Linked DNA regions of Homo sapiens: region 2 is linked to region 1. Evidence: fine-mapped expression QTL. A gene starts in region 1. The other region holds a variant in brackets. All regions are shown on one strand. Distances are between the middles of the regions. Region 1 holds the start of RNF212 (ring finger protein 212). Region 2 has its middle 49 kb from the start of RNF212.

Region 1 (2,909 bases):
CGTTATATCATTATAACATTGAGAGAATGCTTTTATAATGCAGCTTCTGAATTTGATAGATTAGGCACCTCATCCTATTCTTAAACTTATTTTTGAGACTGAGTCTCGCTCTGCTGCACAGGTGCCGTCAGGCTCACCACAGGCTCGATCTCCAGGGCCCAAGCAATCCTCCCACCTCAGCCTCCCGAGTAGCTGGGACCCCAGGGGCCCACCACCACACCCAGCTAATTTTTGTATTTTTTGTAGAGACGGGGTTTTGCCACGTTGCTGGTCTTGCTATTTTAAACTTGGTAGAGATCAGCACTGTCTAACAGAAATAAAAGTGGGCTACATACATAATTCTAATTTGCTGTTGTTGTTGTTGAGACGAAGTCTCACTCTGTTGCCCAGGCTGGAGTGCAGTGGTGTGATTTCGGCTCACTGCAACCTCCGCCTCGTTCAAGCGATTCTCCTGCCTCAGCCTCCGGAGTAGCTGGGATTACAGGCGTGAGCTACCGCACCCAGCCCATACGTAATTCTAAGTTTTCTAGTCTCCACATTGAAAAGGATTTTTTGAAAGGGTAAAATCAACGCTACTGATATATATTTAACCTAATATATCAAAAATATCATGTTAACATGTAATCAATATAAAATTACTAAGAAGGTTTTCATACGAGGCCCTGGAAACAGCTGTATTTTACTCACATCTTTCGGGGCGCAGGGGTCACTTGGCCCGTAGCTACCGGGAGCGCTCACCCTGCGCTCTCCCGGCACAAGCACTTGCCTGAGCCTCTCGATCCGAGCTTTGCAGCGTCCCAGCGGGTGGAAACTCTCAAAACCACGCAGAGGACAATTTTATAAAAAGTCACTTCCCCATGCTGGAACCTGGAAGCAGCAGAGGTCCTTCCCGAGCTACGCCTTCCGTTTCAGAGGGAAGCAGGCTCAGGCCTCCCGTGCTGAGGTCTCTGCGCCAGCGGCCACCTGGACACTAGTCCCAAAGCGTGCAGCGCGGCCTGGCCCCCACCCCCAACTGCCCCCCCCACCCCCACCGCCTCATCACACCCCACCCCCACCGCCTCACGCCCCCACACCCACCCCAACTCCCACATCCCCACTCCCGCTCCCACCCCAACTCCCACACCCACTTATCCCTCCCTCCCTCCTATCCCGCTCCCCGGGCCCCCAGGGCCCCCACGCCCACTCTCCCCTACTCCTCCCCTGCCTCGCCCAGCGCACTACCCTGGCCGCCCTGGCCTCCGGCCCAGCTCCCGGCCCTCAAGGTGGGCCTGGCCCGCATCCCCCGCCCTCGGCGCTCCCCCTCCCCCTCCCCCACTGCTGTCGCGCCGCGACGCCTCCTCAGCGCAGCCGCCATTCCCCGCGCCCGCCACCCAGGCCCGGCTTCCACAAAACACCTGAGGACCGCCAAGACAGGGGCGGGACGTTGGTGCTCGCGGTGCGTTCCTCCGCCTACTCCAGCCCAAACGACCTGGGAGACGAGTCACACGCGCCCTCCCAGGTGCTGCGGGAGAACCCGCGAGGTTGGCGGGAGGGCGCGAGCTCCAGTGCGCGGGCGCAGGGCTGCCGTCGACTTTGCGCAGGCGCAGAGCTGCCCGCCTTCGGGCCCTGCGCGGGGAGGCTGGTCCCAACCTTGCGTGGGCTTCGCGTGGGCCCGGCCTCGCCGCTGCGGTCGCCCGCCTGGCATGGCCAACTGGGTGTTCTGTAATCGCTGCTTCCAGCCGCCCCACAGGACGTCGTGCTTCAGCCTCACCAACTGCGGGCACGTGTACTGCGACGCCTGCCTCGGCAAAGGTCAGGGCTTCCCGAACGCAGGCTGGAGAGGGGAGGGGAGCGGCAAGGGGGTCAGGGAACTCCGGGGGATGGGGGACTTGGGTGGGAGGGCCATGGGGGCACGTGGGGGGCTGCGGAGGAGAGAGGGCGCGTGGAGAAGGGGGAGGGGGCAGGGGGAGGGGGATGCCAGGGGAGAGGCCGCGAGGAGCAGGGGAACTCTGAGGGGAGGGGGACCTGGGGTGGAGGGGCCGCGGGGGCGCGTGGGGGGCCGAGGGGGAGAAACGGCGCATGGAGCGGGGGGGGCATGGGGGGGTGAGAGGCCGCGGAGGTAGGGGTATTCGGAGGAGGGGCCACCGGGGAGTGGGGGCCGCGGGCGTGATGAGGGGCCCGTGGGGAGAGGGGGACACTGGAGAAGCGGTGGGGAGGGAGCGGGGGAGTGAGGGGCTGCGGGAGGGTGGGGAAAGAGGGGACGCCGGAGGTGGTGGGGGGCTGCAGGGAGGAAGGGGACGCCAGAGGAGGGGGGCAAGGTGGGGGATGTGGGGGGTCAAGGCTTGGGGGGGAAGGGGGATACCGAGGAGATGGGGGGAGGGGAGACGCCAGGGGAGGAGGGCGTGGGGGAGGGTCCGCAGGCAGGAAGGGGCCGTGGAGGGGAGGGGCCGCCGGGGGGAGCGGGATGCAAGATGAGGGGGACACAGGGGTCGGGCCACGAGTCCTGTCAGTCGGGGGCTCTGGCTTGCAGGCTGCGGGTCCGCCTGGAGGACCTGGGGGAGAAGCGGGCAGGCGGCAACCTTAACGCCAGTGGAGGACTCTGGCCCTATTCCATGGGCAGCGCGGGGCCCTGGTGTCAAGTGGACAGTCGCATTGTCAGGGAGGCGTTTTTCTTTCTGTGAAAATTTTGTGTTGAACTGATGTTTATGCAAGAACAAAAGCAAAAACACAGTGAGCTTTTACCAAGCGAACTTCCCCGTGAAAGCAGCCAGCTGGGTGCCGGTGGCTCACAGCCCTCCAGCCCCAGGGGACGCCAGCTGTGCTGACCTCCATCCTCGGAGTTGGCCTTAGACCCATGGAGCCTTAGTGAATGCAGCCCTACAACCAGCCCTACAGCAAAGCCGCTTTCTGTGGCTCCCCATCTTTCTTCC
Region 2 (2,909 bases), 50 kb after region 1:
ACCTGGGAGGTCAAGGCTGCAGTGAGCAGTGATCATACCACTGCACCCCAGACTGGTTGACAGAGTGAGACCCTGTCTCAAGAAAAAAGAAAACGAGAGAGGAGAATGGACAAAGAAGTAATCACATAGTTGAAGTCTGTGGATGCAGCTTTCCTCAAAGTATTTTTATGAAGATGGTTAAACCTGAAACAAACTTCAGAATTATTTGGTCTGCAGATGTTTTCCTTTAAATAAATGTTTATTGTAATCATTTTTAAAAACCCAAAATAACAAGTGTTGTTAAGGACGCGGAGGAATTGGAAGCATGTGCACTGTTGGTGAGAATGTGAAATGGTGTGGCTGCTGTGGAAAACAGTGTGGCCTTTCCTCCAAAACTTAAAAACACAATTCCCAGATGATGCTGCATTTCAATTCAGTACTCAAAAGGATTGAAAGCAGGGTCTCTAAGAGATGCTTGTATACCCAAGATCGTAGCAGTATTATTCACAGTGTCTAAAACATGGGAGCCATCTAAGTATCCATCAGATGAATGGATAGGCACAATGTGTGTCTCCGTACAGTGGGCTATGATTCAGCCTTAAAATGGAAGGAAACTCTGGCACACGCTACCGCGTGGATGAACATTGAGGACGCTATGCTAAGTGCATAAGCCAGTCGCAGAAACACAAATGCTGTGTGAGTCCATGTGTGTGAAGTAGTCAAGATCGTAGAGACGGAAAGTAGGATGGTGGCTGCCAGCGGCTGTGGGATGGAGGGGTGGGAAGCTCTCGTTTAATGGGAGTTTCACAAAATTTCAGTTTCACAAAATGAAAACAGTTATAGAGATGGGTGGTGTGATGGTTGCACAGCATCAGGAATGTATTTAATACCAGTGAACTGTACACTGAAAATGGTTAAGGTAGGAAACTGTATCATCATAAATTTTCAAAAAACAAAAGAGACACCAGGGAGCTTGCTTACTAACTCTGCACACACACAAAAGAGGCCGTATGAAGACAGAGTGAGAAGGCTGCTGTCTGCAAGCCAGGACCCCCATCAGCCAGCATCTTGATGGACTTGCCAGTCTCCAGAACTGCGAGAAATAAACTTCTGTTGTGTAAGCCACCCAGTCTGTGGTATTTTATTACAGAAGCCCAAGCAGACTAATACACGTTTTAGTTCTCCTGTTGATACTTTATCTGTGTGCTTTATTATTTCAGTGATTCCTCTAGAGATTACAACATGCATCTTGAACTCACCACAGTGAACACTCACTGAGGTGAACACCGACTGAATTCCAGTGGAACGTAACCACATTGCTCCATATAGCTCCGCTTCCTCCCACCTGCTTTGTCATATGTATTTATGTACATATATATGGGATCTATGTGTTATAAATCTAACAATATGGTG[T/G]TGTCATTATTTCCTGAATTAAACTTATGTTTCTTAAAGACCTTAAGAGGAAAAAAATCTTTTATTCCATCATTCACAACATATTAACCATTTCCAGTTTTTTCTTGCAGGGAAGATTGGCTAGAAGTCAGTTCTCTTCATTTTTTTTTTCCATATTTGAATGTCTTTGTCTTCATTTTGAAGGATAATTTCACTGAAGATACATTTTCTTGGTTGACTTTTTAGCACTTGGTATATATGTCATTCCTCTGTCTTCTGGCTTCCATTATTATTAATATTGGTTTTTTTCATTTTTTTTTTTTTGAGACTGGGTCTCTGCCACCCAGGCTGGAGTGCAGTGTCTTGACCATGGCTCACTGCAGCCTGGACCTCCTGGGCTCAATCAATCCTCCCACCTCAGCCTCCTGAGTATCTGGGACTGTAGGCATGCACCACCACACCTGGCTAATTTTTCTTTTTTCTTTTTTTTTTTTTTTTTGAGACTGAGTCTCACTCTGTTGCCCAAGCTGGAGTGCAATGGTGTGATCTCACTGCAACCTCCACCTCTGGGTTCAAGTGATTCTCCTGCCTCAGCCTCCTGACGAGCTGGGATTACAGGTGCGCACCACCACACCTGGCTAGTTTTGTAGAGATGGGGTTTCACCATGTTGGCCAGGCTGGTCTCAAACTCCTGACCTCAGGTGATCTGCCCACCTCGGCCTCCCAAAGTGCTGGGATTACAGGCATGAGCCACCGTACCCAGCCATTTCCATTATTTCTGATGAGAAGTCAGCTGTTAATCGTATTGTCCTGTAGGTGATGAGTTGCTCTTCTCTTGCTGCTTTAAGTATTTTTCTTTTTGTCTTTCACTTACTAAAGCTTTATAGTAACTTTTGAAATTATGAAGTGTGAGTTTTCCAACTTTGTTCTTTTTTGAGATTGTTTTGCATATTTTGAGTTCCTTGCATTTCCATATGAATTTTAGGATCAACTTTCCCATTTCTGCTGACAAAGCAGGTTGAAATCTCGGTAGAGTTTTAATTCACCTTGTACATCAATGTAGGGGGTATTGCCATCTAATACTAACACTGCATCTTCCAATCCATGAATGTTGGACATAGCTTTACCTTTATTTAGGTCTTTGATTTCTTTCAACGGTATTTTGCAGTTTTCAGTGAAGAAATCTTGCACTTCATTGGTAAAATTTATTCCTAAGTATTTTGTTATTTTGGTGCTACTATAAATAGAATTGTTTTGTAACTTTTATTTTCAGGTTTTCATTGCTAGTATGTAGAAATACAACTGATTTTTATAGATGGATCTTGTATCCTGCAATCTACTGAGTTTATGAGCTCTGGGGATTTTTTTTGTGGATTCTCTAGGGTTTTCTGTATATGGCAAATCATGTCATCGGCAAGTGGAGGTTGTTTTACTTTTTCCTTTCCAACCACGATGCCTTTTATTTATCTTTTACTTTTATTTTTATCTTTTCACTTCCCGTCCCACTGCAGGACTTTCATTTGTTTTTCTCGCCTAAC

What was found.
Region 2: its variant is fine-mapped to the expression of RNF212 in whole blood (TOPMed, PIP 0.98).

Annotation. Positions count from the first base shown.
Region 1 is chr4:1,112,238-1,115,146 of GRCh38, reverse strand. It overlaps RNF212 (ring finger protein 212), which reads left to right and starts at 1,583. Exons shown (of 10, transcript NM_001131034.4): 1 at 1,583-1,791. The coding sequence starts at 1,683. LOC124900647 (nascent polypeptide-associated complex subunit alpha, muscle-specific form-like) reads right to left here and starts at 1,508. Exons shown (of 3, transcript XM_047416477.1): 1 at 1,395-1,508. It overlaps LOC105374344 (a long non-coding RNA gene), which reads right to left and starts at 1,508. Exons shown (of 3, transcript NR_134676.1): 1 at 1,395-1,508.
Region 2 is chr4:1,062,656-1,065,564 of GRCh38, reverse strand. It overlaps a transcript of RNF212 not described here. Among named protein-coding and RNA genes, the nearest start is that of RNF212, 49 kb to the left of the region's middle. The variant T/G (reference allele first, on the strand shown) is at 1,393.